Linked DNA regions of Homo sapiens: region 2 is linked to region 1. Evidence: fine-mapped expression QTL. Tissue or cell type: whole blood. Region 1 holds a variant in brackets; the other region holds the start of a gene. All regions are shown on one strand. Distances are from middle to middle.

What was found.
Region 2: it holds the start of SV2C-AS2, and the variant in region 1 is fine-mapped to the expression of SV2C-AS2 in whole blood (TOPMed, PIP above 0.99).

What each region holds. Positions count from the first base shown.
Region 1 is chr5:76,288,936-76,299,390 of GRCh38, forward strand. SV2C (synaptic vesicle glycoprotein 2C) reads left to right here. Exons shown (of 13, transcript NM_014979.4): 7 at 2,286-2,396; 8 at 2,833-2,921; 9 at 6,843-7,007; 10 at 9,859-9,992. SV2C-AS2 (SV2C antisense RNA 2) reads right to left here. Exons shown (of 4, transcript XR_001742750.2): 2 at 9,168-9,250; 3 at 6,825-6,909; 4 at 6,045-6,169. Among named protein-coding and RNA genes, the nearest start is that of SV2C-AS2, 17 kb to the right of the region's middle. RefSeq lists enhancers at 6,080-7,279, 7,259-8,141. The variant C/G (reference allele first, on the strand shown) is at 6,045.
Region 2 is chr5:76,306,814-76,317,268 of GRCh38, forward strand. SV2C-AS2 (SV2C antisense RNA 2) reads right to left here and starts at 4,816. Exons shown (of 4, transcript XR_001742750.2): 1 at 4,371-4,816. All of the region lies in intron 12 of SV2C (synaptic vesicle glycoprotein 2C), which reads left to right.

The DNA.
Region 1 (10,455 bases):
GTGGTGTGATCACAGCTCACTGCAGCTTCAACCTCCCTGGCTCAGGTGATCCTCCTGCCTCAGCCTTCCTACTAACTGGGAATACAGGCATGTGCCACCATATCTGGCTGATTTTTGAATTATTTGTAGATAATTAACAACAGGTCTCCTTATGTTGTCCAGGCTGGTCTCAAACTCCTAGGCTCAAGTGATCCTTCTGCCTCAGCCTCGCAAAGGGCTGGAATTGCAGATGTGAGTCACCATGCCTGGCCCTCTTAAGGTGTCCTCTGAAGCTCTTCTTAGTGTGCCCTTACCTTAAATATTGTTTTCGAAGACTTCATTTTCAGCTAACTTCCACTTTAACCCTATTCACTCTCCTTAGCTGATCTCAGCTATTTCCTGCATGTATCCTAATGCACAAATCTCCTGAGCTCCACACATGCAGGTTGAAGGACTTTGTGGGCATCCTTCTAGATCACATAGGCCCTTCAAAAATGGCATCTTTGGGCAGTGAGGGGTGGGGAAAGATGGCATCTTTAAATCTGAATTTATCACCTAAGCAGTCTCCAAGCCTCATCATTGCCCTAAATTTCATCAGTAGGTACCACAAGCACCACCTAAACCCAAAAACTATATTCTTTCTTTTATCTTTGGTACATCTAAGAAACCATTATGTTCTATTATTCCACCTCCTAAATATCACTCCACTGCTGCTGATTTGGTGCAGTCCTCCTTATTCACTGCCCTCTGGCCTTCTACTATCCTTCAGGAATCGCGAACTCTTTGCAGTTTCCCGGTGCACTATTTTCCCTCCTAACTCTGGACATTTGTTTGCACATGGTATTTCTCCCACTTGGAATATCCTCCAAGCAGGTTACATCCATGGCAGATAGCGTATTTCTCTATAAGCCTGCAGTTCCTGAAGCCTCTCTCTCACTTCCAGGTTAAGTAGGTTGTTCTGAACAGTATTTCCTTCCCATCTTTTATAGATCCCCATTAGAGTACTTTTTTTCGTTTTGTATGGTAATTGTTTGGAGCCACATGGCTGCCTATGTTTGCATCCCGCATGGGTGCCAATGAATAAATGAACAAACAAATATCGATGAGTGAAAAAGCGGAAGCCTCCCAAAAGTAGTATGTTGGATTAAGACTATCCCATGATGTAAAAAGAAAAGAAAAAAAAACTTTTTAAATCTAGAGTTTTAAAAAACATAATTCCTACATGGATTATTTTGAGCCGATTGCATTTGATTTGGAATTCCATATTTAACTCAGAGATTATTTTTGCTAAGTACAGACATCTTTGTTTACCTGGCCAGAAAGAACCTACTGCCTACTTGGTATAATTTGAAAGGTGCTGAGGGTCCCCAAGCCACCTCTATCCAAAACTGGCCTAGGTACCTGTACTCTGCCAATAGAGTTACCCCTTTAAATGTTGGCAGGATGTCCGGAAAAACCTGTTCAAACCTCTGGCAGGGGTAATGTGTACACATTTCCATGTCCTCTCAGATTTATCAAAAACAGGTAAATCTTGATTAGCAGGAGAAGGCGGGTCAGGCCCACAAAGGACCCATTCTTCATTTTTTTCTATTTTCAGGATTCATTCTCTGTGCTTCTCCTATCTTGTGGTTCTCTTCCTTAGCAAAAAGAGGCTAACTGAGTCATAGATGCTGCTTTTCATGCTGAACCTCTATCATTTATTTCCCTTATATGGCTGAGAAATTCATGTTGATGCTTGCAGTCAAAAATCCTTCACTTAATCTTGAATCATGGCTACCTGTGGGTATTTGCTGACTAGCCACTGTGGGTTAGGCTGTGGGAGAAGGAAGAAAAGGACCGGAAGTGGTGCTCTGAGAATAGTGATGGGAATGCTTTCAGAACTATAGTTAGGGGTCAAATTCATCAAATAAGTAGGTTTCAAAGAAAAAAATGTGTAGACTCACTTTAGCCCAAGCTAAATAATTCTTAATCCAGAATCTAACTTATCTGGATGTTTTGTCTGCTAATGTGTGTCTCTGTAGTAATGGTTCAGGGAGGGCATTTTGGTTTCACATTATTCTATTACTACTTGCCCTTCCCCCATTTCTTTGTGGTTTTCCCTCTCACTCATTCCTTCTTCAGTTCTTCCAGGTGCTGTTTGGATCCATATACTTATGGCAGTGGTCTCATATATGTATGAACTGATTACCAAATACCGCCTACTTCTTGCCGGAGTCAGTTTTTGCTCCTGTAAAAACAAATTATAACCCTACACTCAGCAACTTCAGAGAAGGTAACTTAGCGCTTTGGTCTGTTTCTCTCTACAGGTAAACAAAATAAAAACTCCTAAACAAATAGATGAGCTGATTGAAATTGAGAGTGACACAGGAACATGGTATAGGAGGTGTTTTGTTCGGATCCGCACCGAGCTGTACGGAGTAAGTAACAAGTCCCATGATGACCTGCATGTTAATTTATTGCATTTGAGGTTAGTCAGAAGAGGGGTTTACTGGGCCTGCCCTATGAGCGAGGTTCTTTCCTGCTGCCCAGGACACCTGACTCCTGGACTAGAGCCAGGTAATTGGATCCCACTCGACCAGCATTTAGCCAATACATTCCATCTGTGGGAAGGGAAAGTGTTAGGCCAGGAGTCTTGGCAGTGGCAGGGTGCCTTCAAATCTTGAGTTACCTTGTCCATTGACATCCAGGAAGCTGAAGAATGAAAATTCCAATTACCTTTAACTTTTACATTTTAAGGTGAAATGAATCCAACCCAATGACAACTCAGCATTTTTTATAATTTGGTGGAAGGGGTCGGGGAGTGGGGTTGACTAAGTAACTGCATGAGAAAACTAACTCTCTAATATTTCACAGATTTGGTTGACTTTTATGAGATGTTTCAACTACCCAGTCAGGGATAATACAATAAAGCTTACAATTGTTTGGTTCACCCTGTCCTTTGGGTAAGTGATATTTAAATTCTTGGCAAGCAAAATCGTTCAATGTCCACATTGTAACTCCTAGCCATGCTGCTTTCTTTTCTGATACTGCTTGATGCTGTTAACCTGCTAAGGAAGAAATTTTTTTCAGCTTAGGTTTGCTGAGAGTTATGGTTTTTATAAACCAGTTATTTTATTTGTTTTGTCATAAAGCTAAGGTAGCAAAACCAATTGTATCTGCAAAATCCAGTAAGGCCCTGGATGATTTGCCCCATGACTTCTCTGTCCTGTCCTCCTTTGCCCAGCCCCAGCCATACCAGCCTCTCTGCTCTTCTTTGAACATTCTAGAACAGTTCCCATCTCGGGCCTTTGCGGTGTTCCTCTGCCTGAGTTGCTTTCCCCTCCAGACATCTGCCCAGTTCATTTCTTTACCCTCTTCAACTCTTTCCTCAGATGTCACCTTCTCAGTGATGTCATCCTCTCTTTTTAAAAAATTGCAGCCCCTCCACACTCCCTATCCCCTTCTCAGCTCTACTTTACCCCACAGCACTTTCTACCTTCTAATATGCAAAACACTCCTTTATTCTGTATAAAGAGTAAAGCTCTGGCTTCCCTCTCTGGAAGCTCCATGAGGACAGGGGTTTTTAACTGCCTTGTTCAAAGCTGAGTGTGGTGCCATCCACCTATATTCCAAGCTATTCTGGAAGCTGAGGTGAAGGATTGCTTGAGCCCAGGAGTTGGAAGCTTAAGAGTGTTATAATCACACCTGTTACTAGCCACTGCCCTCCAGCCTGGGCAACATATCAAGACCCCATTTCTAAAAAAATAATAATAATTTTGTTTATGTCTTGTTCACTGATGTATATTCCTGGCATGTAATAGCAGCTCAATAAATAGTTGTTGCCAAATGAATTAAACTGCCATATATGTGTTCCAGGAAAAGAGGAAATAGGGAGAAAATAACAAGATTTTATTTGTTAATCGCTGACATAGTCACTTTAGAATGTGTGTGTACAACTCTATTGTTGCCTAATTTGCTGTTTAGAAAAGAAAAATTAGATAATACTCTACACTTTCAGGTCAGCAGGAACTCAGTACCTTATAGAACCTAACATTTATGTTGCAAGTTTCATCTCTTAACATCCCTAAATCAAACCAGGCAAGTGATCTAAGGTGACCACTCTTTCTTAGTGCCTGAGGAGGTGGAATACGGAGAAAGAAGGAAGCTGGGAGTCAGGAGACCTAGCAGCCCATTCTGCTGGGTGACTTGGTTAGCTTGTGACTTGGAGACATTTCTCAGTTCCTCATTTCTAAATTAAGAGGGTTGACTTAGAATATGTAAAGTAATTCCCACCCAAGCTCTAGAAAATCCATTAATCTCTGAAGGAAGGGAAGGCTAAATATTAACCTATATTAAGTGCTTACTCTGTACCTAAGCAAGGGGTTAAAGACAAAGAAGACAAAGATAAGCAAGAAGGAAGTCCTGCTGTCAAGGTGTAAAGAGTAATCATCATTATCTGGCTTGTTTATTTTGTTTACTAATTCATTATTGATCATATTTTAAGCTTTATGATTTGTTTTACTGCTATATCCCTGGAACCTCAATAGTGCCTAGTATTTAGTGCGTGTTCGGTAAATGTTTGCTAAATAAATGACAAATTAGCCAAAAGCCCTCCACATCATTGATGATGGATGGACATTCCAAGGTAATGTGCCCTCCTCATTGTTGCCATTTCAAGGTTTGTGCCCCATGTATGTGACTAGAGAACAATGCCATAAATGTTGTACCCCTAAGTCATTTCTTCCTCAATAACTACCCTCACACCCCCACAGACATTACTATGAAGAAAAGGGGTGGGAATCCTGAGGCACAGATGTTTTTGGAATCCTAATGACAATGATGATAAAAACGACTCATACTGTCTTCTGAGCACTTTCTATGTGCTAGGTACTTGACATCCCATTTAAACTGAGCAACCACCCAGGAAGGTGGATATTCCCATCATTCCAATAGTAGAGATGGGCAACTGAGGCTTAGATAACTGGCCCAAGTTTAGGCAGCTAGTAAGCGACAAGACCAGGATTCAAACCCAGCCTGTCCTCCTGCAAAGGCTATGCCCATACTCTCTTCTTTCCCTGTGTAGCTAAGTGTCACTGGGAATAAACTAGAGCAGTGGTTCTCAAACTTGAACGTGCATCAGAAGAATCCCTGGAGGACTCCCCTGCCAAAGTTTTTAATTCATCAGGTCTCACTGGAACCTGGGTTTGTGGGGGATGATGATCCTGCTGGTCCGGGGACCTTATCTTATCTTAGGAGGTACTACTTTAGAGCAGCACAGTCTAATAGAGGTATCGTGTGAACCACAGATGTCATTTCAGATTTTCTGGTAGCCATACACACACACACAAAGTAAAAGGAAATAGATAAAATTAATTTTAATACTACATTTTGTTTCATTCATTCTCTCTCTCTTTTTTTTTTTTTTTTTTGATGGAGTCTCGCTCTTTTGCCAGGCTGGAGTGCATTGGCACGATATCGGCTCGCTGCAACCTCCGACTCCCTGGTTCAAGCTATTCTTCTGCCTCAGTTTCCTGAGTAGCTGGGACTACAGGCGTGCACCACCATGCCCGGCTAATTTTTGTATTTTTAGTAGAGGTAGGGTTTCACCATGTTGACCAGGCTGGTCTCGATCTCCTGACCTTGTGATCTGCCTGCCTCGGCCTCCCAAAGTGTTGGGATTATAGGCGTGAGCCACTGTCATTTCAACATATGATCAGTATAAAAATTATTAGCAACAATTTTTACCTTCTTTTTTTCCGTAAGTCTTCAAAATCCTGTGGTATTTTATATTTATAGTATATCTCAGTTTGAACCAGCCACATCTCAACTGCCTGGTAGGCACACGTGGTTAGTGGCTTCTGTACTGAACAGTACAGCAGCATGACACAGCTGTTAGAATAACACATTAGAGGTCAAGAGGCAGAAAGGGGAAATAACTTGGAATCTCTGAGAATAACACGAATGTCCTCTTCCCAGCCTCTAACTACCTTGGGAACTGGCATTCTACCCCCAGGATAGCAGTATCACAGCAGTGTAGGAACCAAGAAAGATTCCCCATTAGCAAAAGAGGTCATTCTTTAGGGGCT[C/G]TCACCGTGCTTGGATCCCAGGAGTTTGTACCACCAGACTAGGAGAGAGAGTTTCTCAGAGCAGACTGGAATGATGAGAAAGATATTGGGGCCAGGATGTCAGATGTCTTACTCCATTTCTGCTGCTATAACAAAATACCACAACAGGTAATTTGTAAATAATAGGAATTTTATTTTTCACAGTCCTGAAGACTGGAAGTCCAAGCTCAAGCTGCTGGCAGATTCAGTGTGCAGTAATGGCACAGTCTCTGCTTCCAAGATGGCAGCTTGTCGCTGAGTCCTCCAGAGGGGACAAATACTGTGTCCTCAGTGGTAGAAGGGATGGAAGGGAAAAAGTGAGAGAGGCAGCACCCTCGCACCTCTTTTTATAAGGACATTAATCTCATTCATGAGGTCTCTGCCCTCATAACTTAATCACCTCCTAAAGCCCCCACCTCTAATATTATTATACTGGGGTTTAAGTTCCAACACATAAGTTTTGGAAGGACACATTCAGACCAGGCACCATGTATGGGCATAGGATCGGATGCTTTCTGCATGTCTCTTCCCAAAGGAAGGGTTTAGGAATTACATACCTGGGGTTCTCCAGCTAACCATAGGCCATCTCTCAAGCTTGATTTTTGCAGATTAATGCTGGGGGAGAGGGACACATGGATTGCTGTATGATGAATTACTCATAATGTTATAGGGAGCCAGCCATTCTCCGGGAACTATTACCAGTCTGAAAACATCAGGGAGTTGCTCATTGCCTCTGGCATGCTAGTGCCTTTACAAACTCACATTTCTTTGTCTTTGCAGGTACTATGGATTATCCGTTTGGTTCCCTGATGTCATTAAACCTCTGCAGTCCGATGAATATGCATTGCTAACCAGAAATGTGGAGAGAGATAAATATGCAAATTTCACTATTAACTTTACAATGGAAAATCAGATTCATACTGGAATGGAATACGACAATGGCAGGTCTAGAAACTTGAAATAATTTAATTTGCTACCTATTCACAAAAACTTATTTCTTCTTAGCTTTCCCTGCACTGAAACAGGCATAGTTTTTTGTTTGTTTGTTTTAGTTTGTACATTTAGTCATTTTCATGATGAATTTCAATACTTCTTAATAGGCTTTAAATAAAAGGTACAAATGTATCCATTACTTCACTTAAAACTATTTTTGCAGCTAAGTTGCTTCATATTTATTAGGTAGTGGACTTGACTGGTGTGGAAGGAAAATTTAGAGCAATGTTGGAGAGCAACAAAAATAATGGAAGGAAGAGAAGAGTGAAGAGTATGGGAAAATAAGACAGGCTATAGGATTATTTAATTCACAGAAGAAATCTGAAATGTGATTATATGAGTCTTCTATTCCTGAGAAACAGAGCCACTTTTCAGAATTCATCCTTCCCAATACGCTGAATCCAGAATTGAGGTTAAATTGCATCAGGAAGAGTTTCAATTAGAGAACAGGAATCATTCCCCAAAGTAAAGGGCTTTGAAAGACGGAAGGGTCTCCTTTATGGGATCTGAAATACTTCTTGATGACAAGAGAGAACTGACTCAGGGAGGTGGTCCTGGGTCATTCTTTTAGAGATGGAAAAGAGTAGACCAAGTACTTGTTTATATCCAAGTATTTTTGTTGCCTGAACAAATAATTGCCAGTGTAAGTTCATGATAGTTTACATCATTCTTAGGAAGTTGTCCCAATTTCAAAAGTGATAAAATAAAACTCTAAAATAATCAAAGTTCCCCAGGGCAAAAACCAGTTCAGAAAGATGAAAAAGAATTCAGTGGGATGCTTATGATCTATGTAATGGAAAAGAGGGTTACTAACTAGGAGGTAATTGTTCAAATTAGCAATTCAATGAAGGAACTAATCATCATCCAAGCCAAGTGGGATCACCTTCACTCTCCCACATAAAATACTGACTTGAATCTGCACTTAGCATTTCACAGAAAGCTTAGTGTCAAGTCCTCTGTGATGCCAGGGTGAAAACTGACTTTCAAAAGTATTGTTACTCCATTAGAAATTTCTAATATATGTTTGTGTCTCTGACAGTCATATTTTTAGTAATATATGTTAAAGTTCTAAACTGGATACTCAGTCACTGCTTAGAACTTTTTTACATTAGCAATATAATGATTACTAATTTTAATAGTATTACAGTTTTTGTAAAACATATGTTACACATTTATTTTAAAAGATGATAGAAACAATTTTTTTGTCCTTCAGGAAAATTTGAAATACCATTAACGAAATTTTTTAAAAAATAGCTTTTTTATTCAGCATCATAAAATGGCAACTCTTTATATACTGATACGGAATAACCTCCAAGGTAGACTAGAAGGAGATAAAGCAGGTGTACTTTAGACACAGAATGCTCCTGGAGGAGCACACAAGAAACTGACAACAATGGTTATTCTGGGCAGAGGAACTTGTGGCCTGGGGATGGATGGGAAAAGACTGACTTTTTCCATTTTCAACCTTTCGAATTGTGCACCATGTGTACTCTCTGAATTATCCATTCAAAAAATAAAACTGATTCATTCCCTTTTCCAAATTCAGTTCCATGACAGAAAAAATTGATAACTTTTTAAAGATGTGCCATTATTTAGTCTCTTTTGGTGCATTTAGATGTTTTTACTCTGGGTCCCTGGAGTGGGGATTGAAACGAGATCATTATTATTATTTCCAGGTAATGTACCATGGGAATGATTTCTTTTTTAAGCTGATTGGTCTGTGAGGCCATGTGCATTTTGAACCAACACACGTAATTGGGTATTAGGGAGAGAATAAATTTGAAAGTACTCAATAGTTAGTAAACTGCTTTTAAATCAACCTACTTACCTAGAAGGATCAGTCCCTTTCTGCCCCTAATAAGAGTGGTATTGACATAACAACTCCTTCCCGAGGAGAACAAGCATTTTCCTCTCAGTGACTGGCTAAGTGTACATTCATAGTCTCTTAATAAAGTACCAGGACACGTTAATGAATATTTATCTGTGTCTGCTGGGAGTCCTTATCAATGCTGATAAGGCCTGGATCATGGACTCTTCTAAGATGTTATTATCATTATGACTGTTACCATTTTTACCACGTAGAATTCCCCCTTATAATACCCAAAAATATACCTGAACAGGTTTCATCATTCTTCATGTTTCCAAAAATAAGCAGAGTTCTCATAATTCCTTTTGGTTCAAGGACTATCTGTTGGCTGTGAGAAGAAAAATTATCCTGGAAATGAGCGTCACCTATGAGTTTCTTCAACCCCAAGTCAGTTATTCCTCACATAAATGAAACAGAATTCTCATGCTCTCTCTTCAGGATAATTACAGGTCCCTACACTAGAATGAAGAAGACTTGGATTTTCAGCTAGGGAAAAATAAAGTTATTAAAAGATCGGGTAGGAGGACATCCTTAAGTTAGAGCCATTAACCCCAAATAGAGAATATTCAAATAAAGATATACATGAAGAGACGATAGGATTAAAACCTAAAGAATAGCCCCAGGTAATCCCCAAACTATCTTCAGTTGCATACCCCACAAAACTTTTTACCAACATTACAAAAAGCTAAGGGAAGTTAGGAGTGTCATCTCTTTTCCTGGTGAAAAATAATATTGGTAAGCAATAAGATAGCCAAAGGTCAGCCTGGATGAGAAAAAGGGGAAAAAGCAGAGAGCTAAGAAAATCAAGAACTCTGTGTTCTTTATAATTAAGACAGTCCATAGTGGGGCATTCCATCTCTAAAACTATTTGACTTAGCTTTGAACTTTGATGGACACAGTCATTGATTGATATGAATTTTTCTGTGTGTTGGGCAGATTCATAGGGGTCAAGTTCAAATCTGTAACTTTCAAAGACTCTGTTTTTAAGTCCTGCACCTTTGAGGATGTAACTTCAGTGAACACCTACTTCAAGAACTGCACATTTATTGACACTGTTTTTGACAACACAGGTAGGTGTGCTACTTAGTACTGCCTCTACCTGAGGCCTCTCCAAAGGGCCCACTGTGATAACCATGTGATAATGTGGGCAGAGGCTTATGCGGGAAGTGGATATTAAAGAATAAATGGAACAAGTTCTCTAAATCAGGTTGGATCAAAGGTTGGCTTGTATTGTTTGTCTTTGTCAGATTTAGTGCAAATGGAGCTTGCCAAAGTTCAAAAGTTGGCAACAACAACAACAAAAAAATCCTTTGATGAATAAATTTTTAAAGCAAAGACCTAACCTGTAGTTTATTTGTTTTGATAATCCTGGGTTCAAAATCTGGTGTTTGTTTAAATGCCTCAACTCTATAGCCAACAGAGATAGACAACATGTGGCTATGCTCAGATACATATATATTTTGGCCAAATCCATATAATGGGGTATTTTAAACTCCCCAGGGGGAAAAAAAAGGAAGGCAAACAAGCATTGAT
Region 2 (10,455 bases), 18 kb after region 1:
AGTAAAAATTAATTACAAATTAAAGCAATTATGACATTTAGCTTTCTCCTATTATTCAGAGAAGACAATATTTAAAAGATAGATAAGATCCAGTGTTCTCTGGGGCAAGTGAGGGGTTACTGCTGAGTCTGTTGTGGGAATTCTGAAAACAGATACCACATTTGTAGAGGGGGATGATCTACAGTCTTAAGTATTTTTTCCCAATAGGAATAAACTATTGATTCCTCTGGTTGCTTTTCAGGTTTTTTCTTTGCCTGCCATGGATTTCTTTGGGTTTACTATGTTTGGGGTTTGCTCAGCTTCTTGAATCTGTAGGTTTACAGCTTTTGCCAAATTTATGAGGTTTTCAGCCATTATTTATTTTGTCAAAAAACAAAATTACAACAAATTTAGTGTAAAGAGCTAGTTGACTTTTATCTGCTATTCTAGAAGCAGGCAACACCTCACTCTATAAAATGGGGTGAGTGCTCTAATGAGCTGAGCAGAGAAAGTTGGCTTCATAGGCAGAAAAGCTCTAAAGAGAGCAGATACAGAGAACAAAAAGCAGATAGCCCTTTCAAAGTCCCTTTCTGTAAAGGGCTAAAACAGAGGGGACTTCCTTATTATGCTCATTTGGGTTGGCCGGAATCACCTGTTTTTTGGAAAACTGGCTCTTTTCAAAGTTCAATTTGATTAGGTGGCACTTAGCCTGAGTGACTCCATTCTGCTTAGGACTGGTCTGCTGTGGCCTAGGTGCAGGAGACTAGCCCAAAACAATGGCCTCCCGTAAAATTTAACTATTTGAATACTTTTTCAGTGCTGCCCTTTTTCTCTTCTGCCTGAACTCCAGCAACATAAATATTAGATCTTTTGTTATAGTTCCGCAGGTCCCTGATTTAGTTTGTTTTCTCTGTTCTTCACTTTAGATAGTTTCCATTGTTCTGTCTTCCAGTTCACTGGTTCTTTCCTCTGTCTCCTCCATTCTGCTGTTGAGCCCAACCACTAAGCTTTTTATTTTGGTTATCATATTTTTCAGTTCTAAAATTTTCATTTAGTTCTTCTTTATTTCTTCTACTTCTTTGCTAGGGCTTTCTATTTTTTCCATTTTTGCCGTGATGCTTTCTAAATTTCATGTGTTTCAAGTGTGTTCATAGTTGCTCATTGAAGCCTTATTATGGCTGCTTTAAAATATTCATCAGATAATTCTAACATCTCTGTCATATCAGTGTTGCCATCTATTGATTGTCTTTTTTCATTCTGTTTGAAATCTTCCTGTTTATTTGTATGACAAACAGTTTCTGATTGGAAGCAGTCATTTACATATTATGTTATGAGAATTTGGATCTTATTTAAGCCTTTTGCTTGAATTGGCTTTCTGTGACTCCTCTCTGGCAAGCGAAAGGGAGGCATTGCCTTATTATTACCAGGTGGACGTAGAAGTCCAGGTACTCCACTTAAGCTCCAGTGACACCCAAGAGTGGGCATTCTCATTACTGCTGGGAGTCCACACTCCCTTCCTGATCATGGATACCATGGGAGGGAGGGAAGGAGGAGCTCATTACCACCCAGCAGGGATGAAAGTCCCAGCTCCTTACTTACCCTTCTCTGATGGCATCCCAATGGTAGTGTTGACAGGTCTTCTTAGTTTCACAAGGGTGGAAGTCTAGGCTACCACCAGACCTTTGCTGATGTAGCTGGCAGTTGAGCTACAATTTTTTCCTGGTGTTTGGTCTGAGGAGAGAGGTTATTATCTAAAAGTTTTCTATCTTGCTAGACTGCCGTTTTCCTGGTCCTTGGGCTAGAGAGAGCAGGCTTTGGTTGTGGCTTTTCTTTTTCTGTGCCTATTGGCATTTCTGGGTTGGCAACTTGTTCGATTCCAAGTCTGAGATCTATGGAGCAGAAGGCAAACGCAGGGAACTCCCCATCCCCAAGCTCCCTAGCAGTTCTGCCTTTTTCCTCTTTCAGTCTTGTTCTGTTTGTTTTATATATAATGTGCAGGATATTTTGTTGTACTTATCAAGAAGAATAAGAAAAGTATATCTATTCCATCTCGGTGTGAATTTTAATACTGTTTGTTTATTTACTCAACAACTATTTTTTTGAGCACCTATGATACAACCGTGAGTAAATCAGTTGTGGTCTTTATTCTCATAAGCACAAGCAAACTTCAGTTGTAATATAGTGGTCAGGGTTATTACATGGGAAGTGCATGATGCTCAGAGCATCAGAGAGGTTTTCTTGAAAGAAGTTCCATTTAATTGAGATCTAGTAGGTGATAACCAGTCAAAAAGATGGAAAGAACATTTCAGTTAGAGCAAATACCAGCTAACAAGCTCTGGAAGTAAAAGAGTTACTCAAAGAACAAGTCATGAAGACTCTTTCACATTGCCTTATTGTGTGGGGACGGGGAGACTTTGAGCTGTCTTACAGAGAATGACAAGATCATTCTTGGCCTTTAGAGAGCTCCCTCTAATGGCCAGAAAGAAGGCAGGGAGGCTGGTTAAGACACTTAAGTTGTAGGTTGGAGGCCGGGCACGGTGGCTCACGTCTGTAATCCCAGCACTTTGGGAGGCCAAGGCAGGCGGATTACGAGGTCAGGAGATCGAGACCATCCTGGCTAACAAGGTGAAACCCCGTCTCTACTAAAAATACAAAAAATTAGCCAGGCATCGTGGCTGGCGCCTGTAGTCCCAGCCACTCGGGAGGCTGAGGCAGGAGAATGGCGTGAACCCGGGAGGCGGAGCTTGCAGTGAGCCGAGATCGCACCACTGTGCTCCAGCCTGGGCGACAGAGCGAAACTCCATCTCAAAAAAAAAAAAAAAAAAAAAAAAAACAGAAAGAAAGAAAGAAAAATGTAGGTTGGAAAGGGGAAAAGTCAACACTCAACATGTTCACAGATATTTAGGGATACATTCAACAAAGCTTGGTGCTTGATTAGATGTTAGGGGGAAGAAAAGAGGTTGTCAAAGAAAGATGATTCCAGTTTCTGCGTGTACAGTTGAGTGAATGGAGATGGCAGGTTTTGTTTATGTTTTTTAATTTTAAAAACCACCTGCAGGAGCACAATGGCATTTTGAGGCTGGGACACAGGAGGGACAGTGGGTCTGGGCTGTGGTCAAGAAGGTAATAAGTTCCATTTTGGACATGTTGAGTTTTTACATCAACCTGGGGCTGTCCGATTGGCATTTGAATATTTTTGTTTGGATGCCAGAAAGATACCTGAGCTGGGGATAGAGAGGTCATTCACTATTTCATTCAAAAAAAAAAAATGATTATGGAATGCATATCCTGTGCCAGGAACTATTTTAGTCATTGGGAGACAGCAGTGAACAAAACAGACAGAAAGCTTTGCCTTGATAGAGCTTATATTCTATAATAGTTTGAGGAAGACAGTCCAACAAACAGATAAGTAAAGTAGATGTAGTATATTGGATGGTGCTAAGTGCTGTAGAGAAAAATAAAGCTACGTGGAGCATAGAGAATGCTGGGGTAAGGAGAGTTACAACTGTAAATAGAATGGTCTAGGGGGATGTGACTGTAAAGCTGACATTTGAGCAAAGACCCAGGCAGACATCTGGAGAGAGTGTATTCACAGCAGAGGCAACAGCAGGTGCAAAGGTCCTGAGGTGGGAGTGTGAGAGACCAGTTGGAAGAGAGGCAAAGCTTGTCTGGCTGGAGCAGAATGACCAAGGTAGAGGGTAAGAAGCCATGGGGTCAGAGTGGACAATAAAAGGGCTTTGGTCTTCTTGCTGAGTAAAATGAAATCCAATGTGGGGTTTGGGGGCAGATGAGTGACATGAACTGACTTATGAAGTCCACAGCAAGAAATGTGGCAAGAGGTAATGGTGCCAATGGAGGTGGTGAGAAAGTGGTTAGATTCTGAAAATATGTCTAAGAGAGAGACCTGGAATAGTTCAAGTCAAAGGAAACAGAAAACAAAGGCCTCCATAGAAATAACATGTCTGAGAGGCAAGAGTTGGAGTCTGGGGGTAAATCCATCAACGTAAGAAAATCCAGAGGTAACACAGATCTGGACTAAGAAATAACAGACACCAGAGTTAGGATACCAGGCCAGGAGACAAGAGTTCAGTGAGCTAGAAACTCAGGCTGGCAGAGTGGAATACAAAAAAACTAGCCTGGAAGCAAGTGGTCAAAGTATTAAGATGTCTTGATCTTCAAAAATGGTGTATGACATTGAGAGAAGGCTTTGCAAGTTAGACTTCCCTATAACCTCTGTGCTTAGGTCAGTAGGGCAGTAGTAGTTTGCAGCTGGTTCTCAATGACATTCATTGGACTGACTTGCCCAGGGCTAGAACTCACCTCAGGTAGAGGCAAGATATCAGAACTGTCTGCAGTGGAAGTTGAAGGCACCTCTCTGCTCATGCACTCACCTTGGTCAGTCACCTCTATCTTGATCCTAAACCTTCTTCCCAACTCTGTAGTAATAGCCTGAGATTCTTGCCAAGGCCAGCTTCCCAGTGCTGTGGTACGTCTGCCACAATGATTGAGATGCAGTGGTCGATGCAGTGCCCTTCTCCCCAAGGCTCTTAATTCTTAGGCGTAGACTTGAAGAAGCCAGGAATACTTGTACTTCTGCAGGGATGAGTGAGGTGAAGCGGGAAGACGGAAAAGCAAATGTTGCATTCAGGAATTTGTCCTTGATTGTGAGGCTGGAAAGACAAGATTGCTTTGAGAAGCATTATGAGGAAAGAAATGAAGAGCAGGGCAAAATGATAGACCTTTGAAGTTTGAGCCATTATTGAATATACAAGTCATTGTATAGTCTTTTAACAGTTTCTACATCAGCCCCTCACCTGTGTCAAAGATAAGCAGAGAGCCTATTATATGTAATGTAGATCACAAACAATTGATGTGGCATGAGATTCTTCTAATAGACATGAAATATGAATGTGACATGAGCCAGACATAGAATGGATTTTCCAGCTTGCCGTAAATCTGAAAGGAGCCCCAACCATCTAACATACTGGTGTGGGGGAGCTTCCTTTTCCCTCATTTCTCCGTCCCCAGTCCCTGCCACCAGCAAAATTACTTTCAACCCTCTTTGCGGTAGAACTGAGAACACCAACAGAAGATGCATTTCATTTTTTGGGTTTAGTCTGTGCTGGTCAGCTTCCCTCAATACCCTAACTGGGAAAAATAAGTCAATTTTCCCTCATCTCTTGAAGTCTTCAAAATGAAAGTATATGTAATGACAGGTTGAAATGGATTTTTTCCATCCATCAGGGTCCCTACTTTTCTCTCCCTGCTTTGTGAAAGTTGTAAATCTCTCAAAAGTCATAAATGTAGCTCCCGCGGTGTAGGCCTGTTCCAGCTCATTCCAGTTCTAGGTTTTGGCCTTTATGTTTCTCTGCGTCCAGGTGTTAACTTTCTGCTGCCACTATGTGGCTGTGGCCAAGTCCCCTGCTCACATTTCCTGTGTGCTTATGGCTCAGGGGCCACTTTTTTTTTTTGGGGGGGGGGACAGGGTCTCACTCTGTCACCCAGGCTGGAGTGCAGTGACGCAATCTCCACTCACTGCAATCTCTGCTTCCCAGATTCAAGCAATTCTCCTGCCTCGGCCTCCTGAGTAACTGGGATTATAGGTGCCTTCCACCACTCCCAGCTAATTTTTGTATTTTTAATAGAGACGGGGTTTCACCGTGTTGGCCAGGCTGGTCTCGAACTCCTGACCTCAAGTGATCTGCCTGCCTCGGCCTCCCAACGTGCTGGGATTACAGACATGAGCCAGCGTGCCCAGCCATTAGGGGCCATCTTTACCCCTCCTCCGTGGCGCTCGGGGCCAGGAGCGCACACCTTGTGAGATGCAGCCCACGCTCTCAGGGCCGTCCTGCAACTCTGCACAGACTCCCAGGGCCAGGCAAGCCTGTCTCATGGTGTCGTTTGGCCGCATGTTCCTGCCTTTCTCTGCCTACCTTCTTCCCTTTTCTTTCCCCCTTATGCCCCCTTATGCATGCACAGTTTCAGACATGAGGTCAGAAAGGATTTGAGGATCTGATTGTTCACACCTGCCGATCCCTGAGAGTCCTGGGCAGCTGCTGCCATCACCCAGTGCAGTGGGATTGGTCTCTTCCTTGATGAGCTAAAATCAAAACATTTTCCCAGAATTAAGCAACCCAAGCCCTTCCCTTAGGACTGTCCTTGTTTTGACAGAGTTCTCTTGTTTCCTCCCCATTCTTCAGTTCCGAAGGTCTGTCATCTTGGATCTCTTACTGACCAGCTGTGCGACCTCAGGGACACCACTCAGCCTAGCTGGGCCTGGATTGTTTGAGATTTAAATGAGGAGTATGAAATAAATAGCATCTCAGGGCCTTTCTAGCTCTAGAATTCTCTTCACTGTCGTCATCTGGTATTCTGTAATGGCAATTTCATTCATTCTTTCTTGAATACATTCTACGTCTAATATAAAGATAAATATCTCACTTATTTGTGAAGATTTTGGTACAGAGGAATCTTTCAGCTATCGCGACTAACCAACCTATGTAATCCACTCCATCCCTGGCCCTCTGCTCTGCTTGATTTTTCCTTATACGCCTTATCATTATATTATATATGTTTATGCTTTGGCTATCCAGCAAAAGTCAGATTCATTTTGTCTCTGGTAGTTAGAAGTAGAGGGTGAAGGGGGTGGGGAATATATGCTTCCTGCTCCCACAACCTTGCCATCAGGCAATATATTACAATGGAAGCAAATCCTGCCAAGTGTACTAGCACAAAAACAGTCACAAAGTTTGTTTTTGAGCTCCAAGGAAGTCCATCTCGCTGTCCTTGGGTACTGAGCAAGCCCTTGCATGAAAGGGCCATGTGCTTGATATGCTGACAGCAGGGCCACCAGACTTGTGGGCCAGCTAAACAAGGGAATGCCCCTTTAATTGTGGGGTGCAGGATAAGGGGGCTCTAGAATCTGGAGTCTAGACCAGGAGTACCATTTCACCAACTTGAGGCTGCAGGGCTTGGAGGACGCTTGTATGTTCATTAGGCTAAGGGCAGAACATTCTTTCCAATCATTGCTTATACAGAACAGCACTCACATCATCAGTGAAAAAATCATCTCCGTGGTCATTAACAAACCTTCTCATGCAGATTTCTAAAATGATCTTTAAAGCACTAAGTAACCATCTCTGGCCTGTTGATTCTTGATTAATGTGCTTTAAATTATATGGGTATGCATTAGAGACAATTTATCTATCAATCATATTGTTTATACTGAAGTACTTAAAGGAAATTATCACCCAGACCTTATGATGAGAGGATGTTAGGTTGCATGTGTACTTGTTTAACTCACTAGAATGTTAGCTCCTTGAGGGCAAGACATTGTCTTCCTTATTTACTGCCATAACTCTAGGTGAATGAATGAATGAATGAATGAAATATGCATTTGAGAATTAATTTGGCTATGGATGATAGTTTTCCTCCCCGTATGGGGTCCAGCCTCCCAGCTTTCCAGAGTGAGCATTTGGGCCAGTGTAAGGGAGGGAGCACTGGTCTTCAGTCCTCTCTGCTGTCCTTTGGGTCCCTTTCCACTTCTTCCATCACAGCCTGAGACCTCCTGATCCTTCAGCTGTCAGCTCCCCGTTCCTCATAAAGCATTGCCTATTAGAGATCCACCTCCCCCTCTCCCTCTACTTCATCAACAAAGTGGAGGAAAGCACTGATCTAGGGGTCACTGAATTCAGGTGCAGTCACTGCCAGAAAAATAGCTGGATAATTTGGAAAAGGCCTTTCACCCTTCTGAGCCTTGGTTTCCTCATCTGTGTGGTGGAGGGTGGGTCGGGCATGATGCTGGAAATTTTAAATGATCTCAACTTATTTAATTCTCATCCCAATCCTGTAAGAGTAGGTATTCTTACCCCATGTTCAGGTGAGGAAAATGCGGCACAGAGAGGGGAAGTAACTTGTCCTGGATCACTTAGCCTTAAACCCAGATGTCTGACTCAGTGGTGCTGCTCCCAGCACAGACATATCTACCTCCCCTCCCAGTAGGTGTGGGAATCTATTTTTAAACAGCTCACTTGGCTGTTGGGATGCACAGCCATGTTCATGACCTTGGCCACAGATGAACTCCAAGGGGTGCTCAGTCATTCCATCATTATTTACCCTGGCCCAGGCCCTCACTCCCTAGCTAGGTTAATCAGATAAACAAGACATAAAGGCTCCCGTTATTACCTTCCCAGAATATTTGATTTCAACAGGAATAAGCAGTCAAAAGCCCCTTATGGTGGTGGAGATGGGAGGGAGATAAAGGGCTACTTGGGATCCAGGGATTCCTGTCAGCTCACAACTTGTAGGTGAGTCCTTCTCCACTTGAGTGTAAGGAAGGCCCTGCTCGAAGGGGTGCAGGGTGCCATCTTGCCCTCATTAAGGAACATGGCCAGGCGCACACACACACACACACACACACACACACACATAATAGATACTAGGGTAAGACAGATTTTTATCTTTCTTTGAAGATTAGAAAACAATTGCATTCAGTCTTTTCTGACTTAATATGAAATTCATTTTTTCTCTCTGAAAAAAAAAATATGATAGTCTGGTATCAAAAAAACAAATATGACCCAACTAATTTCCATTAAAATGTCTATTACAAAAATCGACTTCCAACATATTTGGAAGATCTCAGGAAATCTGTTAGCTCAGTCTTTCATTTAATAAGTAACATAGGTATCTGTACCGGTCCTGAGAAGAGGTGGTGCTGAGTGACTACAAAGGCTACCCAGCTCCACTCCCCCAGAGGTGACCTGGACCTAAACAAGGCTAATTCTGGACAAGGAGATGTGCAAGATTGGTATAAACCAGCCCTTGGAGGGGAGTGGGAAGGGTAGCGTGGAGGGAATCAAGTTGAGGCAACTGAGTAACAGTTGGAAGAGAAGGAAACAATTCAGGTTAGGTGAGAAGCTGCCTCTGGTGAAATGAATTAAGCTCTGTGCTGTGAGAAGCAGAATAAACAAGGGAGTTTAACAAGAGCCTAAGCAGGAAGGGAGAAGAAAAAAGGGATGGGAAGCCTTTGGGTTGGATCCCTCTCTCTCTCCTCTCCAGTGTGCAAAGCATACTTTGCTGGCCTCAGTATCCCCTGCATCACATCATAAACACTTTCCCTTGGATGTTTTATGCTGCTTGATATTCCCTAATGAACACACACAAACGAAGCAGGTCATATATGTGAAGGTGTTAATTGCAGAATCACTTGTTACCCCAAATTTGGAAAGCTCCCATTAGCCAATGGCATGGTTACAAGAATAATGGTTCCATGCTAAATAAATCATTTCATTTTAAACAAAACATCAACATGAGAAAACAGTAATATGAATGAAAAAAAAGCAGAAAGCAAAATTGTCTAAATCCTCTGATTTCCTGTGATTTATATGACTGGAAGTACACTAAAGGGAATTCAGAAATGAAAACCATTTGTCAGAAAGGTGGAGTGGATGTTTTGCTTTTATAATTTCCTTTGTATATGAAACCCACATCAATTCAAAGAATGCAGACATCCCTGGGAAGACAGCAGGATTCTCAACCCTGGATACACCTTCATGTCACGTGGAGCTTCTAAAAAATACTAATGCTTGGGCCCCAATAAAGCAATAAATTCAGAATCTCTGTGCATGTGGCCCTAGGCATCAGTATTGAACACATCACTAAGGTTTGAAAGCTCCTCCAGGTGATTCTGATGCACCCAAGCTTAAGCATCATTAGTTCAGGGCATGGTTATACGTGCACTTTGGTTCAATCAGATTGCTATCCTAATCCTAGGTTGAAAACACCTGCTTGGGAGTAGGAAATTTATTTAGGGGCTGGAGGGAGGTAAGCCGTTTAGCCCTCAAGAAGCCTTTAGGGGTGTGTCTAAGGCAAACCTGAGTGGGTACCATGAGGGAAGTTAGGGAGATGTGAGAGTACGGGGAGAGGCAGAGAACACCCCTATCCACATGCCATCCTTCTCCTGGCAAGCTCCTACTATTCCTTTCAGCACACTCCTAGTCTTGTCCAGCCCCCCTGAGAAGCTTTCCTTCAACTGCCACTACCCTCAGCTCGATATCACTTTCTATGCTCCTGGCTGCATAATACTTTGTGGGTATCTTCAACATTGCACTCAGCATGTATGTTACCATGATCTCGTCTCACCCATCTTAGTGCAAATGGAGGTTTCATCTTATTAATTTTGGGGTCTCTGGAGCTTAGTGCAGTGTTTGACACTTAGCAGATATTTAATGAATGATTATATGAATATGAAAAAAACGCATAGAATATGTAAATTAGGAGTGTATTAAGGACAAATCTGCGTATTAGACAAATATTTAAGGGTTTCTTGTACTTTTAGCATTGTAATGTGATAGCTTAGATGGATTCAGTGTTACAAAAGTTCTTTTAGGCTAACCTGATGACCTAGCCATCATTTTTAATATTTTTTCTCTAAGATAAATGAAATTCATTGTGTATTTCAAATAACCAACTTCCAGA